3 linked regions of the Homo sapiens genome follow. The protein of the gene in region 1 interacts with the protein of each later gene in a pairwise test. Each region holds a gene or a part of one and is shown in the gene's direction. Other genes may lie near its edges.

Region 1 (8,013 bases):
CAATTTTCAGCTCTTTACTACTTTTATAAGCACATTTATATTGTCGAAGGTCTATTAACTGTACCTTTGGATGCCTTGTTCAGAAAATAGTGTTACTTTTAATTATTTAGGTTTGTAAGAAGTATCTTTTGCTACTTAAGGTGTAGCATTTTCTGGTCTTCAAAGGAGCCCTTGCTCATGGTTGTACTGCTGGAGAGCACATTTGTGGTTCCCTGGAGACAGCATCAAAGACTCCAACAGCAGCTGTATCAACAGAGATGTGTTTGTACATTATTGTGATTTAAAAAGTACTTTGAGGATTGGGCATTTTGCAACAAAATACAAGCTTTGTTCTCTGGAATAGTAGGGGATTTGGCAAAATTACTTCAAAAAGAAAAGGATTTTGCACTAAAAAGTGAATAATTCTAATTCTTCATCTAGTAAAATAATTTCATCCCAGTAAGTAGTGTTTTTAGTCCCTCATTATTTGACACATTTGACCATTTAAATATATGGTATTTATTCACCAAAGATGCCATTAAATTTTCTTTGTTTCATGGTTACTAACAGCCTGCCTTGTACATTTTGGCCAGAAGAGAAGAGATAAACCCCAGTTTTTATCAGCTATAGGCCTGAACTCTCAACAGTAGACTTGAAATCTTTTTCTCTACCTCTCCCTTCCAACACTTTGGTGACCATATAGCAAAAGAACTAAATGTTTCTTGTGTGGTTATTAGTTATCTTCTGTTCATATGAATTTGTAGTAGCTTTGTCAAGGAACCTTTCAAATTCGATGAGTACTTTTCTGTTGAGTATGATCCTAAGTGATTACATTTTCATTTAATTCCTTTCTCTTAGGAGAGCAACGCTTTATGAAATTTATACATTTAAACTAATATTCTTAGATGCCTATCAGTGGGGAAGTTTTCATTGTCTTAGTGAAAAAAATGAAGAGTGGGAATAATTTATTTTCTTCAGAACCACCAAAATGGGACAGAAATCCTGATTTCCTGATCCTAGTGAGATCATCTGCCTTTTAGGCTGCTTCAAAGAATGTTACAGATTGTCCAGGTTATGAAGCTCTTAAAAATTTGTACAGATTTTTAATGTATGCTGAAATCATAAACAATGACTGAAACCTCAGTTTTTGAAAATTCCTAAGGAATTGATTGATTTTTTTTTTTTTTTTTGAGACGGAGTCTTGCTCTGTCACCCAGGCTGGGGTGCAGTAGCATAATCTTGGCTCACTGCAACCTCCGCCTCCTGGGTTCAAGCAATTGTCTGCCTTAGCCTGCCAAGTAGCTGGGATTACAGGGACCTGCCACCACAGCCCGCTAATTTTTTGTGTTTTTAGTAGAGACGGGGTTTCACCATCTTGGCCAGGCTGGTCTTGAACTCCTGACCTTGTGATCCACCCACCTTGGCCTCCCAAAGTGCTGGGATTACAGGCGTGAGCCACTGCGCCCAGCTGGAATTGATAATTTAACTGGTTATTTTCTGGCTAGAAAACAATGTATACTTTTGTAAAAGTATTCTTTTAATTATTTTTACCTTATACAAATGAAATTAAATTCATACTTTTCTCCTTAAACATCGTAGACTGAACAAAACTGCTTGGTAATTTACTTGATGATGTGATATTATTCTTTTGCTTTAATATACCAATAGATCCTTTTTTCCCTCTAACATTTATTTAATACTTATTGTAGGCTAGGCACTGCTCTAGGCATGATACTGATGTAGTCATTTACTAAATAGTCTCAGGCTGCAGTGTTTTGAATTCTTGGCTGAATTGAGCATAATGTTAAGAACACGAATTCAGGAACCAGACTGTTAAAATTTGAATCCTGGCTCTACTGCTGATATGACATGTGACCATAATATGACATGTGACCCTATACCATAATACTGGTAAACACCTAAAAGAACAGTAACTTTTTAATACCAATGAAGTTATTTCTTCAGTTGTCCCCTAAATGTCTATAACCCTTCTTTGCCTCCATTTTTGCATCTGTACGTGGGGTCAGTGATGTAACCTACCTCATAGGGATTGTTATGAGGATTAAAAAGAACACATAAAATGTTTGAAATAGTGCCCCACACATAGTTGCTATGTAAAGTTATTACCACCACCAGGAATACTGTTATTACTATGACTTCACAGTGCTGTCAGCCAGCTTGCCCCATCTCCTCTTTAAATTTCTCTAATCTAGGAAAAGACAACCAAACTAAGGGTAAAATGAGAGTAAATTGACTGTATGAAGCCTGAGATTTCCCACAAGAAAACATGCTGTGTATACCTTGGCATTACATTTTGGTTGCTGAGAACTTTTGTTTCTTAGACAAGCCTTTAATAGGCCATGCTTATAAATGAATCTTGAATAAGAAAAAGTATGAGATAAAGTTCATTTTAATAAATAGGACTTATTTTTTAGGGAAAAAGATCTTGAAGAAGCTCTGGAAGCAGGAGGTTGTGATCTTGAAACGTTGAGAAATATAATTCAAGGAAGACCGCTGCCTGCTGATCTGAGGGCCAAAGTTTGGAAGGTAACTAGAAACTAAAATGAATAAAATGTAATCACTGAAGAATAATATTTTTAAAAGTTTGTTGCTTCAGATGTCTTAGTTGCAGAAAACTTTATTACCTTATGAGCATGCCGCATCTAGATTTATCAAACAGCAGCTTATTAAAATGTTTGTTTCTGTAGTGTTTGGTATATTTAACAATAATGGCTTAGATTTTGGAATGTAATATATGCTTTTGTAGCCATTAGAAATGGTGTTTATGGGGCCAGGCACAATGGCTCATGCCTATAATCCCAACACTTTGGGAGGCTGAGGCAGGCAGATCACCTGAGGTCAGGAGTTCAAGACCCGCCTGGCCAACATGGTGAGACCCCATCTCTACCAAGAGGCCGAGGCAAGAGAATCGCTTGAACCCAGGAGGCGAGGCTACAGTGAGCCGAGATAGCGCCACTGCACTCCAGCCTGAGTGACAAAGTGAGACTCCATCTCAAAAAAAAAACAAAAAGAAATGGTGTTTATGAAAATTTTCTTGAAACAAGATACAATCAGTGAGTAAAATAGGATGTATATTTGCAGATACAGAATGATCATAACAATGTTAAAAATAAAAAAGGAAGTATGCCTCTGGCTGTTGGGTTATAGGAGATTTTCCCTTTGTTTTCCTCTATTCAGCTATTCTACAGTTCATGTGTATTATTATTTTTTAAAATTTTGAATTAAGGCATTGTTATGATTACAAAAGAAATACATATATTTGTGGAAATATATACAGCATAACAACCACAAAGGATAAAATAAAAATCTGTTACCTACCACCTATAGGTAAAACAGATGAGGTCTTGGTGCTTACCTTTTTACCTTTTTGCCCTATGCACATATGTAACAGAAATGGAATTAAAACTGTACACAGCATTCTGAGCATTTTATTATAGAAGTTTAAGCACATGCAAAAGTGTAGAACTTGTATAATGAACTCCCATGTGCCCATAACCCAGCTTTAACTGGTATCAACATTTAGCCAGTGTTGTTTGATTAGTATCCTCATCCTTTCCTCCCCACCCAACTCACTGGATTGTTTTAAAGCAAATCCTTGCTAGCATACTAAAAGTCTGAAACGTTTAAAAGAATGGTAATTCCTGGCTGGGTACAGTGGCTCACACCTGTAATCCCAGCACTTTGGGAAGTTGAGGCAGGTGGATCACCTGAGGTTAGGAGTTTGAGACCAGCCTGGCCAACATGGTGAATCCCCATCTCTACTAAAAATACAAAAATTAGCTGGGCGTGGTGGTGGGTGCCTGTAGTATCAGCTACTTGGGAGGCTGAGGCAGGAGAATCACTTGAACCCGGGAGGCGGAGAGGTTGCATTGAGCCGAGATCGTGCCACTATGCTCCAGCCTGAGCAAGAGAGCGAAACTCAGTCTCAAAAAATAAAAAAGACTGGTAATTCCTTAATATCATAAAATAATTTCTTCAGTTGTCTCATACATGTGTTTTTATGGGTGATTTGTTTAAATTTGAATTCTAGTAGGTCTACCTGTTGCATTTGGATATGTCACTTAAGATTCTTTAAATCAATACAGTTTATTTTACATTTTAAAAAAAACCTTACAAAACAGTGAAAACATTTGCTCAATTTATTAAGTATTCTTTTGTATAATTTTAAAATGTACATGGCACAGATGTACTTTTTCTTTGCCAGTACATTCTGTTGTTTTTACATTAAAAAAATTGATTGTGTAAATTTACATATCTAAATATATAAATATTTTGGGTAATTTATTGTATTCACTAAATCAACATGAAGAAATATCTAATGTAGGAGGACTTAAAATAATTCTGCTGGTTGTGACATGACTAAATACTCAACATTTGGTGGAGTATGGATACCTTAATTGTAATCTTTGTTATTATTTTTAAATTCAGGCCTTTAATTATTACAGCATATTTTCCAAGAATGAGGAATAACATATGAAGCTAGTCACTTTTTAAATCTTTCTTCCAGATTGCTCTGAATGTTGCAGGAAAAGGTGATAGTTTGGCATCATGGGATGGTATTTTAGACTTGCCAGAACAGAACACTATTCACAAAGATTGCCTGCAGTTTATTGGTAAGCTGAATAATCACTTTCAAGCAGAGTTAAATTTTGGAAATAATTTTTGGGTTGAGGAATCACTCTTCAGAATAATCTTATAATTTCAGAATTTGTAAAAGGCTTGTAAATAGCTTTAGAACTTTTCTTTGGAAATTCTTATGAAATATTGTCTATTAATTTTAAGGGAGCCTAGTTTTGACTGGGTGCAGTGACTCACACCTGAATCCCAGCACTTTGGGAGGCCAAGGCAGACAGATCACTTGAGGTCAAGAGTTCAAGACCAGCCTGGCCAACATGGCAAAACCCTGTCTCTACTAAAAAATACAAAAATTAGCCAGGTGTGGTGGTGGGCGCCTGTAGTCCCAGCTACTTGGGAGGCTGAGGCAGGAGAACTGCTTGAACACAGGAGGCAAAGGTTGCAGTGACCTGAGATCACACCACTGCACTCCAGCCTGGGCACAGAGTGAGACTCTATCTCAAAGAAACAAAAAAGATAACCTAGTTTTTACTGTTTCTTTTGCATTATATGTTAGATTTTTCATGTACATTTATGGGTTTGTTGTAGTCTTAAATTTGATTTTTATATAATTAAAGATCTATATGATTGTATGCAGCCCTCAAAGGGGAGCTTTGTTCCAAAAGTTTATCTATAAATCATAGTTTGTGGACTGCTGTAGAGAAACTACTATAAATTGTGATTGAATAGGTTTCCAGTCACCCCACAACATCTATTTCATTTCACAATGTGGATGAATTTAGTTTATACTTCTTTTAAATTCATCTCTAGTGCATTGTATTTTTGTTTCTCTTTCCATCATATTTTAGTTAAATTATTAGCTTGATAGGCCTATGTGTGGTAAGCACAGCAGAAACATTATTGCTGGTGTGGACAAAAGAAAGAATTTGATAGTGGAGAATGAATTCCTTTCCCTCTTCTTGCCAAAATTATAGCAACAACTGCCCATCATGGAGTAGGTGATAATCTGTTTAGAAAACCCTTTTGCTTCCCAGGAATATGGGCTATGCCTATCTTTACCTATCCCTTTAATTCAGATTGGCCATTCTTATGTTTGACATATATATAGATCAGGTATTACTAAGTGCTAATGTTTAGTAAATACTGAATGTATAGAAGTCTTCTGTTTCTTTCCCTTCTCTCTCAACAGACTAGGTAAGAAAACATGCTTAAGTGAAACTGTTATTCTTAATTTTCTTTAAATTTTCTTTAAACTGTCTTAAAGTTAAAAGACTGTTAGAAGGCCAGGCACAGTGGCCCATGCCTATAATCCCAGCACTTTGGGAGGCCGAGGCAGGCAGATCACCTGAGGTCAGGAGTTCGAGACCAGCCTGGCCAACATGGTGAAACCCTGTCTCTACTAAAAGTACAAAAATTTAGTTGGGTGTGGTGGTGCTTGCCTGTAATCCTGGCTACTCGGGAGGCTAAGGCAGAAGAATCACTTGAAATCGGGAGGTGGAGGTTGCAGTGAGCCAAGACCGTGCCATTGCACTCCAGCCTGGGTGACAAGCTAAACTCCGTCTCAAAAAAAAAAAAGGCTGTTATAAAGCGTTTTGACTGTGTGTTTTCCTTGGGTTTTGGATCTGTGAACCAATGATTGTTAAAATAAGTATAAGGGAAAATATACTTTCATGTAGTTTCACTTTGTCTTTCTCTAAATGCACTAACATAGTATTATATATTTGTAAACAAGTGTTATGTCCAATAACAGCCCCTGACAGGCCCTCAGTAACTTTATTTTTAACATTTATTTTCTAGACCAGCTTTCAGTGCCAGAGGAGAAGGCAGCAGAATTACTTTTGGATATTGAATCTGTAATTACCTTTTATTGTAAATCACGTAACATTAAATATAGCACATCCCTTAGCTGGATACATCTACTGAAACCATTGGTGCATCTTCAACTGCCACGCAGCGATTTATACAACTGCTTTTATGCCATAATGAATAAGTACATTCCCAGGTAAAATATGATTCAGTTATTGTAGTTTTTAAAAGTGAATACAGGCCTGGTTTGCTTTGAGCTAAAGTTGCTAGATTTACTTTGGCGGTAAAGTAAAAGGTTCAAATAATTTTGAGGATTGTTTGATCCATAATTGTTATTTTATTTTTGTGGTTATAAACATTTTTTAAAAGATTCTTTAGTTAAAAATGTATACTTCTGAAACAGTGGTTATACTGGGGTTGGAGTTGGGGAGGAAGTGGGGAGATTTAGGTCAAAAGGATACAAAATAGCAAATAGGTGTGATGAACAAGTCGAAAGACCTAATATGCAATGTGGGGACTCTAGTTAATAATAGTCTATTATATTGAAGATTTTTGCTAAATAAGTAGATTATAGCTGCTTTTGCCACAGAGGGGAAATTGGGAATATGAGATGATAGGTGCATTATTTTGTTCCACAATAGTAACCATTTTACTATGTATGTGTTTTTTATAACGTGTTGTATAATGCACAGAAATTTATTTTTAAAAAATAATTTAAAAATTAAAAATTTCTAGAGTTTATATATATAATTCTTCCAGTTTATTTGGTGGTATCCCTATTTTAATTTATTTGCCTATAAAATATTACAGTGTTCAGGTGAAAAGTAAAATTTCTGGGGTGTTACCTTATTGAGCTTGGAAGGAAGTCCTAGAAATATAGGCATTGAACAAGTAAATTGAAGTGTGCTGAATGTTAGAAAGGTGAAATATAGAGTGCTATGGGGATGTATAATGGGGGCAACCTAACTTACCTTGGAGGTCAGGGATGGCTTTCCCATGGTAAGTGGCATTTGAGACCAGACAGATGTGCAGGTGGTTGTGATGGGGGTTGTAGTGGGGGTCGTGGTGGTGGGCAGCACTCATGAGGCCAGAAAGAATTGTTGTAGTTCCCAGTGCAATAGATCAGATAGTTAGAATTTTAGTACCAAAAGAAACTTTAGACATAGTCTAGACTAGTGGCTTGGCTGTACAACCTTGAATGCACATTAGAACTATTGGGGGAGCTCTTAAAAATCCTAATGACTATTTGCATACATGAGTAATTAAATGAAAATCTCTTGGTGATGGGACCTAGGCATCAGTTTGTTTAGAGCTTACTAATTAATTTCAGCGTGTAGCCAAGGTGGAGAACCGCTAATCTGGACCTTGATAGTTAACTGACTCTTATTTTTTACTACTTTCTAAGTGATACCACACTGTATGAGGTATAAGTGTTTTGTATGGTTCTCTACCCTGGTTGCTTGTTAGAATCAACTGAAGCACTTTTTCTTTTTTTAAATAACGACTTTATTGAGATATAATTTATATTCCATAAAATTCACCATTTTAATGTGTACAATTCACTGGTTTTAATTATAGTCACAGAGTTGTACAGCCATAACCACAACCAATTTTAGAACATTTTATCACCCC
Region 2 (8,013 bases), on another chromosome or scaffold:
AGCAATTCTCCTGCCTCAGCCTCCCGAGTAGCCGGGATTACAGGCTCCTGCCACCACACCTGGCTATTTTTTGTATTTTTAGTAGAGGTGGGGTTTTGTCGTGTTGGCCAGGCTGTTCGCGAATTCCTGACCTCAAGTGAACCACCCACCCCTCTGCCTCCCAAAGTGCTGGGATTACAGGCGTGAGGCACCGCACCCGGCCCCCATTCCTTCTCTCCTGTTCCACCCCATTTATTGTGAGGCTTCTGGTCTTGAAGTCACTTCATGGCCCAAGATGGAGTTCTGGCTGTCGTGTGCGTATTTCAGGAGGGGAACTGGTAGGAAGCAGGGCAAAGGGTTCCCTTTGACGAGTATTTCAGGAAGTCCCACACAGCATGTCAGTTTACTTCTCCTTGGCCAGACTAAGTCATGTAGCTGTACCTGCATAGTTGCAAGCATAAAACTGGGGTTATGTCAGTAAGGAAAGAGAGGCGAGTGGATATCCAGGAGGCAGCTTGCCCTGTTTGTTGCAGTAAGGAGCCACGGGAAGCCTGGGAAGCAGGTTGACTTGATGATGAATATTCCATGAAGTTGCCAAAGTCTCACTTAGCGACATTTACTTAGTTATCTACACACCAATTTACCATCTCACGTAGGGAGACAATTATTAGATTGTTAAGGAACAAAGGTAAAAATAAGATTAAAAGAGAGAAGGGAGTAGAAGGAAACCATACAATCTGGGAACAGTGAATCTTGCTGCCAGAAACCTACGAGCTAGCCTGTTCATTCAGTGCTTGTGCAGGCTAGCTAGGAGTATCAGAAACATTTTGGCTCTTTATGGATTTTCCAGAACACCTTGAGTATTTAGCAGTGGAGCACAGGCTGCAGGCTACCTTGATGTGATGCCTGCCAGGATCCTCCCATCAGCACCACCCGTTTAGTTAGGCCAGGCCTGTACCATTTCCTGCATCTCTATTTCTCAGTGTTACAGGGTGGATAGGGTCTTAGGATACCCACTGCGGCAGAGGGAGAAGAAAGCAGGGTCCGCATACAGTGTCTACTCCATTTGGGTTTGGTGTCTCAGGGCGGAAGGGGCCTTTGCATTTACCCCCATTTCTCTGTGTGCTTTGCTGGGCACACCAGCGGCACTGGCTCTGTGGGAGCTGCTTGAGCTCACCTCTGCTGGCCTCTTCCGAGGCTTGGGAGGCAGAAGAGGGCAGAGTCCTATCAGAGTCGCCAGGATGGGGTCTGGCTGGCCACCCTCAGCGGAACCAGTGATCAGCTCTTTTCTTTATCCCCAGGAAGTCTCTCAGTGCTCTGGCCTTCTCCCCTGATGGGAAGTACATAGTGACAGGGGAGGTGAGTCGTGATCGTGACTGAGTGGGAGTCGGGGGCTGGGGGGTCTTGGAAGCCATTCCTTCTGCTCCCGGCAGGCCTGGGAGTCCCTGGAATAGCTCCTTCCTGGGCCAGAACAGCCCTGTAGCAGATGGGGGAGGTGGCTTTTGGGCACATCCTGTGGCAATGCCATCTTCGGCCTTGACAACCCTCTAGCCCTGCCCAGTACAGAGCCCAGCAGCAGTAACGACCCCACCTTCCCTAGAATGGGCATAGGCCTGCTGTGCGCATCTGGGATGTGGAGGAGAAGAATCAGGTGGCGGAGATGCTAGGCCACAAGTATGGTGTGGCGTGTGTGGCCTTCTCACCCAATATGAAGCACATCGTGTCCATGGGCTACCAACATGACATGGTGCTCAACGTCTGGGACTGGAAGGTAAGAGCCGACCAGCAGGCCTGTGGCAGGCAGCCAGCTGCCACAGCATCCTATGTCTTGGGCACAGGGAGAGCTACATGAGAGGACGCAGTAAAGTGCTCACTCACCCAACAGATAACAGCTATTGAGCACCTGTGACATGCTGATCCCTTATTGTAGGGCACAAGGCAGGCTCCCAGCTAGAAGCATTATACATATTTTTATATTGACCAGCTGTGACCTTAGGCAAGTGACTTAACATCTCTGTGAGTCTGTTTCCTCCTCTGTTAGATGGATATAGTAGTACTTATCTTGTTGAGTTGTGAGACTTTAATGAGTTGATAAGCACTGGAAGGCTGGGCTTTGGAACAGCTGTGGAGCTGGCAGAAGTGGGTACCAAGTCCTGGCTCTGCCCATAACCCACTATGTGACCTTGAGCACATGACATCTCCCCCTCTGAGCCTGGTAGGGTTGGGGAGAAGCGCCTCCCTCGTGGGGCTTTTGAGGGATTGAGGAAATTTCATGGGTTATCCTGTGAAGGGCTCAGGGCAGGGCCCAGAGCAGGAGCCCCATCTGTGACAGCCATAGGTTGTGTTGTCCTTACATCCCAGCCGTGACTGTCCCCAATACCATGTGTGGGCTGCAGAGCTTAGACCCTTGGAGAGAGCTCTGGAACATACTGTCCCATGGGGACCATTCCAAGCCTCTGTCCCTTCCTCTGTCGGTGAGGAATGAGCAGGGTGCCCCACATAGGTTTCCCCATACAGCAGCTCCCTGGAGGGTCCCAGGAAGACAGACTTGGAGTGGGGACGAGCAGGGAGTTCCAGCCTGAGGGCAAAGGCACAAACAGTCCAGTGGAATGAGTGCTGGCATGAGCTTCTCTGCACTTATTCTTCCAGAAAGACATCGTAGTGGCCTCCAACAAGGTATCTTGTAGAGTCATTGCCCTCTCCTTCTCAGAGGACAGCAGCTATTTTGTCACTGTTGGGAACCGCCATGTGAGGTTCTGGTTCTTGGAAGTCTCCACTGAGACAAAGGTGAGTTTCTGTCCCTGCCCCTTTAGCCAGGCCCTGAGGGAGTCACCATCGGTGGCAGCATGGTCTCCTGTTTCTCCCTGAGATTTGAGGGCAGCGGTCTCGGGCCATTTGGCCTCTCAGGGGCCCAGCTGCTGCTTCTGGGCCTACTCTCAGGGTGCTGATGCACAGGCCCTGCCAGGAACCCCCTGACCCTGGGACCAGCTCTCATTCTTGGACTGCTGCTGTCCAGCCCCTCTGTCCAGAGTGGCAGGGTTCTAGTGTTTTCTTCCCTTCTCCATTTGGAAGAGCTTCTTAGAGTTCTCCTGTTTTGTTGTGTCCTATCATCTGGTCATGCAGGGCCCAGCTGTGTGGACAAGTATCTCACTACGCCCTCTGTGTCTCCAGGTGACGAGCACAGTGCCCCTTGTAGGGCGCTCGGGCATCCTGGGCGAGCTGCACAACAACATCTTCTGTGGTGTGGCCTGCGGTCGGGGCCGGATGGCGGGCAGTACCTTCTGTGTGTCCTACTCGGGCCTCCTCTGCCAGTTCAATGAGAAGAGGGTGCTGGAGAAGTGGATCAACCTGAAGGTACCACCTCCCTCTCTGCCATCAGCTGGACAGACTCTTTCTCGTGATATGTGTCTGCAGGGGTGCTCATCAGCATTGACCACACAGGTTCTGCTTATGTGACTAGTGGTGAATGACGCCCACTCTCTGAGCTTAAGGTTCCACATCTGTAAAATGGGAGTACTGCTGCCCTCCCCGCAGAGCTGATAAGGAAGTCACGTGAGATAACATAGGCAAGGCAGTGAGCACGGTGCTTGGTACCCTGAAATGGGCTCAAGGTGACAGTTGTTTTCCCATGACTATTTGATCTACTTCACATTTCTTTTCTCCTTTGAGCACTCTGGCTGGTAGAGGATTGCATTTTTTTTTAATTAATTTATTTTTTTTTATTGATCATTCTTGGGTGTTTCTCCCAGAGGGGGTTTGGCAGGGTCTTAGGACAATAGTGGAGGGAAGGTCAGCAGACAAACAAGTGAACAAAGGTCTCTGGTTTTCCTAGGCAGAGGACCCTGCGGGCTTCCGCAGTGTTTGTGTCCCTGGGTACTTGAGATTAGGGAGTGGTGATGACTCTTAACGAGTCTGCTGCCTTCAAGCATCTGTTTAACAAAGCACATCTTGCACCGCCCTTAATGCATTTAACCCTGAATGGACACAGCACATGTTTCAGAGAGCACAGGGTTGGGGGTAAGGTCATAGATCAACAGCATCCCAAGGCAGAAGAATTTTTCTTAGTACAGAACAAAATGAAGTCTCCCATGTCTACTTCTTTCTACACAGACACAGCAACAATCTGATTTCTCTATCTTTTCCCCACCTTTCCCCCTTTTCTATTCCACAAAACCGCCATCGTCATCATGGCCCGTTCTCAATGAGCTGTTGGGTACACCTCCCAGACGGGGTGGTGGCCGGGCAGAGGGGCTCCTCACTTCCCAGAAGGGGCGGCCGGGCAGAGGCACCCCCCATCTCCCGGACGGGGCGGCGGCAGGGCGGAGGCGGACCCCCACCTCCCTCCCTGACGGGCCGGCTGGCTGGGCAGGGGCTGACCCCCACCTCCCTCCTGGACGGGGCGGCTGGCCGGGCGGGGGCTAACCCCCCACCTCCCTCCCGGACGGAGCGGCTGGCCGGGCGGGGGCTGACTCCCCCCACCTCCCTCCCGGACTGGGCGGCTGGCCGGGCGGGGGCTGACCCCCACCTCCCTCCGGGACGGGGCGGCTGCTGGGCGGAGACGCTCCTCACTTCCCAGACGGGGCAGCTGCCGGGCGGAGGGGCTCCTCACTTCTCAGACGGGGCGGCTGCCGGGCGGAGGGGCTCCTCACTTCTCAGATGGGACGGCCAGGCAGAGACGCTCCTCACCTCCCAGACAGGGTCGCGGCCGGGTAGAGGCGCTCCTCACATCCCAGACGGGGTGGCGGGGCAGAGGCGCTCCCCGCATCTCAGACGATGGGCGGCCGGGCAGAGACGCTCCTCACTTTCTAGACGGAATGGCAGCCGGGAAGAGGCGCTCCTCACTTCCCAGATTGGGCAGCCGAGCAGAGGGGCTCCTCACATCCCAGACGATGGGCGGCCAGGCAGAGACGCTCCTCACTTCCCAGACGGGGTGGCGGCCGGGCAGAGGCTGCAATCTCGGCACTTTGGGAGGCCAAGGCAGGCGGCTGGGAGGTGGAGGTTGTAGCTAGCCAAGATCGCGCCACTGCACTCCAGCCTGGGAAACATTGAGCACTGAGTAAACGAGACTCCGTCTGCAATCCCGGCACCTCGGGAGGCCGAGGCTGGCGGACCACTCGCGGTTAGGAGCTGGAGACCAGCCCGGCCAACACAGCGAAACCCTGTGTTTGGTGGAGACCAAAAAAATACGAAAACCAGTCAGGCGTGGCGGCGCGCGCCTGCAATCGCAGGCACTCGGCAGGCTGAGGCAGGAGAATCAGGCAGGGAGGTTGCAGTGAGCCGAGAGGGCAGCAGTACAGTCCAGCTTTGGCTCGGCATCAGAGGGAGACCGTGGAAAGAGAGGGAGAGGGAGACCGTGGGGAGAGGGAGAGGGAGACCGTGGGGAGAAGGAGAGGGAGAGGAGGATTGCATTTTTTAAAAATTGGAGGTACCATTGATTTAATAACTTTTCAGTCAAAAAAGACTACACAAAATACATAAACTTTTATTTATTTTTATTTATTTTTACTTTTTTTTTTTTTTTGAGATGGCGTCTCACTTGTTGCCAAGGCTGGAGTGCAGTGGCGCAATCTCAGCTCACTACAAGTTCCACCTCCCAGGTTCAAGCAATTCTCCTGCCTCAGCCTCCCAAGTAGCTGGGATTACAGGTGCCTGCCACCACGCACAGCTAATTTTTGTATTTTTAGTAGAGACAGGGTTTTACCATGTTGGCCTGGCTGGTCTCGAACTCCTGACCTTTAGTGATCCATCCGTCTTGGCCTCCCACTGCGCCCGGCCATAAACTTTTAAACTAAAGCATGATCTATCGATACATTGCAGAGCTTCTTTCCTTTAGTATCTGAAGGTTTGAGTCAAAGCTGTTTTCCCATCTGGAATCAGTTGCCCATTTGGCTATCCGCCCGAGCGTTGTGGTTTCCTCTCCTGTTCCTGGCCTGCCTTTGTGACTCACTCTGGAGATCACCTTCGAGGTTAATGGCTTGTGGAAGAGTTCCAAGTTTTATCTCTGTCCTAGTTGGTTAAACATCATTTTCTCTTTTTCAAGCAAGTGAAAAGCTTTCAATAGATAGATGTTTATTTCCTAAGCACTAAATGACTCATAAATTAAGTCCCTGTAGATTTGGAAAAACTCCTTAAACTGTATCTAGAGGTCTAGCACTTCCTAGTAGGATAGACAGTCCTTTCTAGATACTGTAACTTTTTTCTGTACCGCTTTGGAGTACAGTCTTTATGAAGTTGTTTGTAAGCAAAAGGGAATAAAATTTAAGCCTAAAGGCTGGGCGCGATGGCTCACATCTGTAATCCCAATGCTTTGGGAGGCCAAGGCAGGTGGATCACCTGAGGTCAGGAGTTCAAGACCAGCCTGACCAACATGGTGAAACCCCATCTCAAAATACAAAAAATTATCTGGGTGTGGTGGCGGCCGCCTATAATCCCAGCTACTCTGGAGGCCGAGGCAGGAGAATCACTTGAACCCAGGAGGTGGAAGTTGCAGTGAGCCGAGATTGTGCCATTGCACTCCAGCCTGGGCGCAACAAAAAACTCTATCTCAAAAAAAAAAAAAAATTTAAGCCTAAAATTCAACCCTGTTACTACAAGTGACTTACCTGAAGTTGCAGTCTGCTGAACAGGTATTTTCCATACACAGCTACGTTTCTCTGTAGACAGCAGTGACAATTCTGTTTCCGTTCATGCCTCTGCCTACCTGCTGGCACATGTCTTTCAATAGCAGCAGTATGCTATATCCTGATTTCACAAATCTTAAAATATGCTAAAATGGGTGTCTTAGACCCAAGGAACTGTAAGTCTTCTCTGGAGGCCTAAGGCTGCTCTGTCAGTCCCCATATCCCCGGGCCAGGCCACGTGAAGCACCAAATCCACTGGGGTCCCTTTTGCCCCTACAGGTCTCCCTGTCTTCCTGCCTCTGTGTCAGCCAGGAGCTCATCTTCTGTGGCTGCACAGATGGGATAGTCCGCATCTTCCAGGCCCATAGCCTGCACTACCTCGCCAACCTGCCCAAGCCACACTACCTTGGGGTAGACGTGGCACAGGGCCTGGAGCCCAGGTACTGCCCTGTGGGGAGAGGGAATGGGAGGGGCCCACCCAGAGTCTGTCCACTGGCATTCATCCATGCTTCCAGATCCATCTATCTGTCTGTCCATCCCACAAATACCCATCATGACTCTCAGCCCTGGGCATTACAAAGCAGAAAAGTCCTTGCCTTCCGAGGCAAGCCTCACAGTGAGAAGTGAGGCTGGGTAGGGGGAAGAAACAGTGAGAAAACAAAGGAATAATATCATTTCAGATAGCGGTCAGCATGGTGAAGAACAGTGCAGAGCAGGTGTGAATGTGGCGGAGTGTTTCCATCCACATGGCTGACCCCTACTAAGTGGCTGCTAAGTGCCAGCCCTGGGCTGGAAGCAGGACATGCCTATTATAATGAAGCAGCAAAATCTCTGCCTCTCTGCAGTATAGCAAGGGGGCTCGATGATAAGCAAGTACACGAAAAAGATAATTTCAATAGGCATGAGTGCTTTGGGGAACACAGCAGGGACTCGGGAAGGAGAGTGACTGGGGTGGGCTGTGCTGATTGGGTGCCTGGTGAGAAGGAGCTGCTGTGTGGAGAGCTGGGTCCCAGCAGTTGAGGTGACAGCACACTGGGCTTGTTACGTTGCAGGAATAGTAAGGGACTGTGTGGCCAGAGCCCAGTGTGTCCGGGGAGGATGGTGGGAGATGAGGCCAGTGTGGGGCGCCTGTAGTCTATCCTCAGGTCAGTGGGCAGTTGCTGGGGTTTCGGGCGTTGGGGTAAATGACCAGGCCTTACATGTTAGGTCCCTCAGCTGCTGTGTCGAGAGTGGATAGAAGCACTAGGCTGTGGCTTTCTTCTCCTTTGTTGCAAGTCTGTTTTATGGAATTGGGGGCTACCTAACCAGGGGGTGCCAGGTGCCTAGGGCTGCCTCTTTGTGGATTTCTGGATGCTAGCTCCTGGGTGCCTTTTCCACGACAGGGCCTGAACAGGGGAACTGGGTGTCATGAAGG
Region 3 (8,013 bases), on another chromosome or scaffold:
GTCCCGTATGAAAATCATTGTGGAATAGGAAGTGAGAGTGGTGGTCTCCAATCTGATTCCACGATTTGAGGTGCTGTACGGTGCCTAACAGTGTACATCCAAGTAGTAAAGTGTGGTTGTTTAAGAATAAAATATTATATTTTTCTTTTAGTTTATGTGTATTTTCAAACAGCTAATAACTTAGGACAAATACTAGTTTGAACTTAATTATTTACTAAATGGAACTTAAGTATTCCTTTTGGTCCAGAGGTACTGTGAAAAAAAGTACTGAGACATTAAGGGTGTCACAAAATGAGGAAATCTGGGAACTTTATTCTTTGGCAAGATTATGTTGATTTTATTATTTAGGATACATAAATCAGTAGTAAAAGTAAAATGGGAATGGGAAGAATGAATACATATGGGCTTCAGTACACTGGTTATCTCTGGGGAGGAGGAAAGTTAGATAAAAGGGATCAATAATTTGTAACATTCTGTTTTCTTATTTGCTCCTGATTTTAAAAAACATTACATCTGCATAATTTGTCATATTGAAAAATAGTATAGCATAGCATTTAGAAGTAGTAGTCTAGAATCTCAGCAGCACTGCTTAGCAGCTCTGTGACTTTGGACAAGTGACTTTAACATCTCTTACACTTCAGTTTCCTTATCTGTAAAATAGGGATAATAACAGTACTGACATCATGGGATTTTTGTGAGATTAAGCAAGTTTATATGTGTTTTCTATTATACTATCCTTGTCCTTTTGAAACATTGTATAATTTAAAACATCTTAAAATTACAGTACAACAAAAGAATTTTGAAGATCTCTTGAAATTTATTGTAATTTTATTTGACCAGAATTACATATAACACACTTTTTCCTAGCAGTCATTTGGGGACTTCTTTCCCCCATGTAAAAAGTTTTGTTTTGTTTGCTAGCACAAAACCATGCTAAAATTCACACAGTAAATAAGGTTGAAATAATATATAATTTTTAAGTGGCTACAGCAGTTTATTTGATAAATATAAATATAACTGTTACCATCCAAGTTCATGGTCTACTCGTTTTTATTTCCTTCTTTCTCTTTCTTATGAGATAACAACATTGAAAATTACTCAACGAATGCACTAATTCAGCCAGTTGACACCATCAGCATATCTTCCTTGAGACAATTTGAAACCGTTTGCAAATTTCACTGGGTAGAAGCATTTGATGATGAAATGACAGAGAAGCCAGAATTTCAAAGTCAAGTGTATAATTATGCAAAAGACAACAATATAAAGCAAGACTCATTTAAGGAAGAAAATCCAATGGAAACTAGTGTTTCTGCAAATACAGACCAACTTGGTAACGAGTATTTTAGACAGCCTCCTCCTAGAAGCCCGCCTCTAATCCACTGCAGTGGAGAGATGCTGAAATTTACAGAAAAGTCACTGGCTAAAAGTATTGCCAAGGAATCTGCCCTCAACCCTAGCCAACCTCCAAGCTTCTTATGTAAGGAAAGTGTACACAATAATATTGTAAAACCATTTGATAAAGAGAATAGTTCTAACCTAGTTCATCTGAGAGTTAATTATAAAGCAGAGGAGGTACGATTGTGATGGTCAGTAAAGCCTGTGGAGTATTAAAGGATGCATTTTAAAAATTGTATATATATATATATAATCTGAGACTTTTCCAAGTAGTGTTAAATCACCTAGTTAGCATGAGGGACTTTGCTTCTCTGGGGAAAATGCATTCTGAGATCTTAGCCAATTCAGAAATAAATTTTTCTAGTAAAATCAAGTCCATACTTGAGGATTAGCTCTACCAAATGGTAATTTCTCTAAGGATCAGGACTGTCTTACTCACCCTCTTATGCACCACAGCGTCTATATGTTTCCTTGAATATAATAAGCTTTTTTTACCATAATTTTTTTTCACCACAAACAAGTTTATTAGAGAAGTAAAGAAACAAAAGAATGGCTACTGTGTAGACAGAGCAGTCTGAATATAATAAGCTTTTATATTTGTTGAATCAAAATGGCTGGAAGTAGCAGAGTTTACACTGATGGAAAGGTCAAGAAGAGGAAGGAGTGCAGAGGCACTAATTCATTTTTCAAGAAAAACAAGATTTCTCTGTCATATTGGAATTCTACTGACAAGCAAAAAATACTACTTTTTCTACTAAAGTGAAAATATTAGTTTATCATTTGGTTTATTGATTCCGAGCACACATGTAGTATCCTAAGAGCACTGAAGATACCGACAGTATATATTCTGTGTACTTTCTGAACAAAAAAATTAAAAATACTAGGAATTGGTATGGGAAAATAGATAAAATTCAAGAATAGTATAAGTAATACCTTTTCTCTTTTTTTGTTGTTTTGTTTTGTTTTTGATACGGAGTCTCACTCTGTTGCCCAGGCTGGAGTGCAGTGGCATGATCTTGGCTCACCGCAACCCCTGCTTCCTGGATTCAAGCGATTGTCCTGCTGCAGCCTTCTGAGTAGCTAGGATTATAAGCGTGTGCCACCACACCTGGCTAATTTTTTTTTGTATTTTTAGTAGAGACGGGTTTTCACCATGTTGGCCAGGCTGGTCTTGAACTGCCGATCCACCCGCCTTGGCCTCCCAAAGTGCTGGGATTACAGGTGTGAGCTACCACACCTGGCCAATAATACCTTTCCAATGTGAGTTTGATGGGAAACACTATGACTATAATGTCTTATTTACAAGTATGAGCATTTTCATTTTTTTGAAAGTAGATGACAGCATTTAAAAGGACTTTATTTGTCCAAGTTGATTTCTGGAAAACAACCTTTTAAAAATCAGCTTAAATAGGGTTTCGCAAGATTGTTCTTTCCTCTTTTCATTGCATTTAGCCATTTTTCATTCAGTCAATAGATACTTTTAGGCATCTATTACATGGCAGGTCTGTACTACACATTAGGTGATGGTTAGAAAATAGACAAAAAGATGTAGTTCTTGTCCTCATGAAGACAGCATCCTACTAGAGGAGGTAGTCATTAATCAATCACACAAATAAATGTGAACTTGCAACTATAATAAGATCAATAAGGTGAATAAAGTTACATATAAAGTATATGTAGAGCATGTTATATAAAGTTACTATTTATGCTATGATGCTATATCAAGTTACAGATAAACTTGCAACTATGATAAGTGCTGCATATGTAAGTAGGTTGGGCATCTATGATAAGGACACTACCCTGATCAGGGAGTCTGGGGAAGGCATCCCTGAAGAAATGATCATTGAGCTGAGCTCTAAAGGATGGGTAGAAGTTAATTAGGCAGCCATGGGTAGGAGAGCCTTCCATACAGAAGGAAGAACGTCTGCAAACCCTGTGGCCACAGGAAGCATGGTACCTACTAGGACCTGAAGGAAGCCCTGAGTCCAGGAAGATCAGAGTTGGAGGAAGGAGGAGGGGTACAGCAGATGAAGACAGAGAGGTGGTGTGGGTCAGATACTGCTTTAGTTCATTTCATCTTGCTGCAACTATATCACAGACTGGGCAATTTATAATGAATAACAATTTATCTGGCTCACGGTTCTGGAGGCTAGGTCCATGGTGCCAGCATCACTCGAGGGTCTCTGTGCTGTCATTTCATGGTGGGAGGTGGAGGGGCAAAAGAAGGTGAGATCGAGGGAGCAAGTGGAGGCCAAACTAACTTTTATTTTATTTATTTATTTATTTATTTATTTATTTATTTATTTATTTATTTTGAGATGGAGTCTCGCTCTGTCGCCCAGGCTGCAGTGCAGTGGCACCATCTTGGCTCACTGCAACCTCCGCCTCCCGGGTTCAAGCAATTCTCCTGCTTCACCCTTCCCAGTAGCTGGGATTACAGGTGTGTGCCACCACGCCCAGCTAATTTTTTGTATTTTTAGTAGAGACAGGGTTTCACAGTGTTAGCCAGGATGGTCTCAATCTCCTGACGTTGCGATCCACCTGCCTCGGCTTCCCAAAGTGCTGGGATTACAGGTGTGAGCCACCACTCCCAGCCCCCAAACTCACTTTTGTAACAAATCCACTTGTGATAACTAACACACTCCTGTGATAACAACATTTAGTCATTTTTATTCACCTCTTACTAGGCCCCGTCTTCCAACACTGTTGCACTGGGGATTGGGGATCAAGCTTCCGGCACGTTAACTTTAGGGGATGCATTTAAAGCACAGCAGATATCAAGAGCAAGATATTAGGGCCTTGTAGGTCTCAGTAATGATAGTTATCTTTATCCCAGAACAATGAAAAACCATTAAGATACAAGGTTCTGCAGAAGGATGAGCTCAAAAAACAAAATACAGAAGTCCTTGTCTCTAAATTCCAGAGAATTATACAGCACACCACTACAGATACCTTTTACTGGGTTTTTACTTATTTATTTATTTTAGATACAAGGTGTCTTGCTCTGTTACTCAGATTGGAGAGCAGTGTGATCATGGCCCACAAGAAATCCTCCTGCCTCAGCTTCCCAAGGAGCTAGGACTACAGGCACATGCCACCACACCTGACTGATTTTTAAAATATTTTTTTTGAAGAGATAGGGTATCACTGTGTTACCCAAACTGGTCTCCAACTCCTGGTCTCAAGGAATCCTCTCACCTTGGGCTCCCAAAGTGTTGGGATTACAGGTATGAGCCACTGTGCCTGGCCTGGGTTTTGTTTTTGTTTTTTTTGTTTGTTTGTTTTTTGTTTTTTTGAGACAGAGTCTCGCTCTGTCGCCCAGGCTGGAGTGCAGTGGCGTGATCTCGGCTCACTGTAGCCTCCACCTCCAGGGTTCAAGCAATTCTCCTACCTCAGCCTCCCGAGTAGCTGGGACTACAGGTGCACACCGCCACGCGCAGCTAATTTTTGTATTTTTAGTAGAGATGGGGTTTCACCATGTTGGCCAGGATGGTCTTGATCTCCTGACCTCATGATCCACCCGCCTCAGCCTCCTGAAGTACTGGGATTACAAGCATGAGCCACTGCACCCGGCCCTGGGTTTTTAATGTCATATTCATTTCACCATTTCTTACCACAAATTACTGTCTTTTTTTATTTTTATTTGTTTATTTTATTATTATTATTTTTTGAGACAGAGTCTCGCTCTATCGCCCAGGCTGGAGTGCAGTAGTGTGATCTCAGCTCACTGCAACTTCCACCTCCTGCGTTCAAGTGATTCTGCTGCCTCACTCAGCTTCCCAAGTAGCTGGGATTATAAGCATGTGCTACCATGCCTGGCTAATTTTTGTATTTTGGGCAGAGATGGGGTTTTATCATGTTGGCCAGGCCGGTCTCAAACTCCTGACCTCAGGTGATCCACCCACCTCAGTCTCCCAAAGTGCTGGGATTACAGGCGTGAGCTACCTCGCCCGGCCTACTGTCTTTTTATAACCTCCTCGAGACCTCTATCGGCAGCATAAAGTCAATCATGAGGCATGTTCTTCTGCCATTCTAATGTTCCTGAGAGTCACAGAATAATGAGATAATGGTCTAAATGTGGAATAAAAAATATTCAAAAGAGAAGAGAACTTTCCCCCCTAAAAATCCAAACTTTTGGCCCAGTAATAACATGTAAAAAAAAAAAGAGAGAGAACTTGCAGTCTGTAAGGTAATTGATACATTTATTTGTCTGAATTTATTTGAAGTCAAAGCATCTTATATGTGTTCAGAGAAGTTTGCATAATAGAAAATGGTAAGAGGATGAAAGTTTAATTTTCCTTTTGTCAAAGTAAATGGGATGTATATCTGTCATATACCTACTGCCTGTGCCCTGCTGTGCTGTTAGGTGCTGTACAAACATTTAGCAATTAATACATAGGTATTAACTTTTGTTAATAGGCATTATTATTGGAAGTAGATACTATTGTTACTTTATAGCGGAGAAAGCCAAACAGGGGATCTACTAATAGAATTCAAGGCCAGCCCTATTTGACTTGAAAGCTCATTATCTTTCTACTCGTTCACACTTACTTTGTTTACTATAATTTACAGACTGCAGTTCCTTCAAAAGAAATACAGAATTATGGGGAGATTCCTGAGATGTCAGTCAGTTATGAAAAGGAAGTCACAGCAGAGGGTGTGGAGAGGCCAGAAATTGTCTCAACTTGGTCTTCGGCAGGCATTTCCTGGAGGAGTGAAGCATGTCGGGAGAACTGTGAGATGCCTGACTGGGAGCAAAGTGCTGAAAGCTTACAACCTGTTCAAGAGGACATGGCTTTAAATGAAGTCTTGCAGAAATTAAAACATACTAACAGAAAGCAGGAAGTGCGAATCCAAGAACTCCAGTGTAGTAACCTGTATTTAGAGAAGAGGGTTAAAGAACTACAGATGAAGATTACCAAACAGCAAGTGTTCATTGATGTCATCAATAAGCTAAAGGAGAATGTTGAAGAATTAATTGAAGACAAATACAAAATAATCCTAGAGAAGAATGATACTAAAAAGACATTGCAGAATTTGGAAGAGGTTTTAGCTAACACGCAAAAACATCTTCAGGAATCCAGGAATGACAAGGAAATGTTACAGCTTCAATTTAAGAAGATCAAGGCTAATTATGTGTGTTTACAGGAAAGGTACATGACTGAAATGCAACAAAAAAATAAATCTGTAAGTCAGTATTTAGAGATGGACAAAACCTTAAGCAAGAAAGAAGAAGAGGTAGAGAGACTACAACAACTCAAAAAAGAACTGGAAAAGGCCACAGCTTCTGCTTTGGACTTGTTGAAACGGGAAAAAGAGGCCCAAGAACAAGAGTTCTTGTCTTTACAGGAGGAATTCCAGAAACTTGAAAAGGAAAACCTGGAAGAAAGACAGAAACTGAAATCTAGACTTGAGAAATTGCTCACTCAAGTTAGAAATTTGCAATTTATGTCTGAAAATGAAAGAACGAAGAATATAAAACTTCAGCAGCAAATCAACGAAGTAAAAAATGAGAATGCAAAACTTAAACAGCAGGTTGCAAGGAGTGAAGAGCAAAATTATGTCCCTAAATTTGAGACAGCTCAGTTAAAGGATCAATTAGAGGAAGTCTTGAAGTCAGATATTACCAAGGTATTGATACACATTCTAAATCTCTAATGCGGAATTTCAAGAGTTTCTAGTGGTCTAGTGATGCGTATTTAGACGTGGCACTTATATTTGTTTGCAGAAAGAATTATTAAAGAAAGAAACAGATCTCGGCACTTTGGGAGGCTGAGGCAGGAGGATCTCTTGAGGCTAGGAGTTTGACACCAGCCTAGGCAACATAGTGAGACCCCATCTCTACAAAACATTTTTTAAAGCAGCCAATCTGTCATGCATGGTGGTGTGCGCCTATAGTCCTATCTATTCGGGAGGTTGAGATGGGGGAATTACTTGAGCTCAGGAGTTTGAAGCTGCAGTGAGCTATGATTGTGCCAGTGCACTCCAGCTTGGGTGACAGAGCAAGATTCTGTCTCAAAAAAAGAAAAAAAGAAAAAAGAAAAACAGATATGGAAAGGAAAATACACCACAGGTTTGGAGAAGTTTCTTTTGGTTCATGAATATTCAAAGAACAGCTATTCCTGCCTTCTTGTGGTTCTTTTGGTAGAGGTGGCCATTAACGTGGGAATTTTGTGGGTACTCATTGCCAGTCATCAAAAGCATCTTCCAGCAGTTACTTTTTTTTTTTTTTTTTGAGACAGTATTGCTCTGTCGCCCAGGCTGGAGTGCAGTGACACGATCTTGGCTCACTGCAACCTCTGCCTCCCAGGTTTAAGTGATTATCTTGCCTCAGCCTCCGGAGTAACTGGGATTACAGGCGTGCGCCACCATGCCCAGCTAATTTTGTATTTTTAGTAGAGATGGGGTTTCACCGTGTTGGCCAGGCTGGTCTCGAATTCATGACCTCAAGTGATCCACCTGCCTCAGCCTCCCAAAGTGCTGGAATTACAGGTGTGAGACACTGCGCCCAACCCCAGGGTTCCTTTGAGAAAAGATTTTCTAAGTTGTCTCTCAATCCTATTCAACAAAACAAAATAATATAATTGCATGTTTGGTTTACAAGGCAAAACAAACCTG

Evidence for each region.
Region 2: the proteins of TBC1D23 (region 1) and WDR62 interact in binary tests that used the Homo sapiens proteins (3 or more experiments, as listed by UniProt).
Region 3: the proteins of TBC1D23 (region 1) and CAGE1 interact in binary tests that used the Homo sapiens proteins (3 or more experiments, as listed by UniProt).

The regions. Positions count from the first base shown.
Region 1 is NC_000003.12:100,277,235-100,285,247, forward strand, and holds part of TBC1D23 (TBC1 domain family member 23), read left to right. Parts: intron 1-2,414; coding exon 2,415-2,526; intron 2,527-4,507; coding exon 4,508-4,613; intron 4,614-6,372; coding exon 6,373-6,577; intron 6,578-8,013. UniProt on the Homo sapiens protein: Putative Rab GTPase-activating protein which plays a role in vesicular trafficking. Involved in endosome-to-Golgi trafficking.
Region 2 is NC_000019.10:36,064,678-36,072,690, forward strand, and holds part of WDR62 (WD repeat-containing protein 62), read left to right. Parts: intron 1-1,280; coding exon 1,281-1,338; intron 1,339-1,579; coding exon 1,580-1,750; intron 1,751-2,628; coding exon 2,629-2,766; intron 2,767-3,150; coding exon 3,151-3,333; intron 3,334-6,878; coding exon 6,879-7,039; intron 7,040-8,013. UniProt on the Homo sapiens protein: Required for cerebral cortical development. Plays a role in neuronal proliferation and migration.
Region 3 is NC_000006.12:7,372,086-7,380,098, reverse strand, and holds part of CAGE1 (cancer-associated gene 1 protein), read left to right. Parts: intron 1-1,078; coding exon 1,079-1,482; intron 1,483-5,967; coding exon 5,968-7,026; intron 7,027-8,013.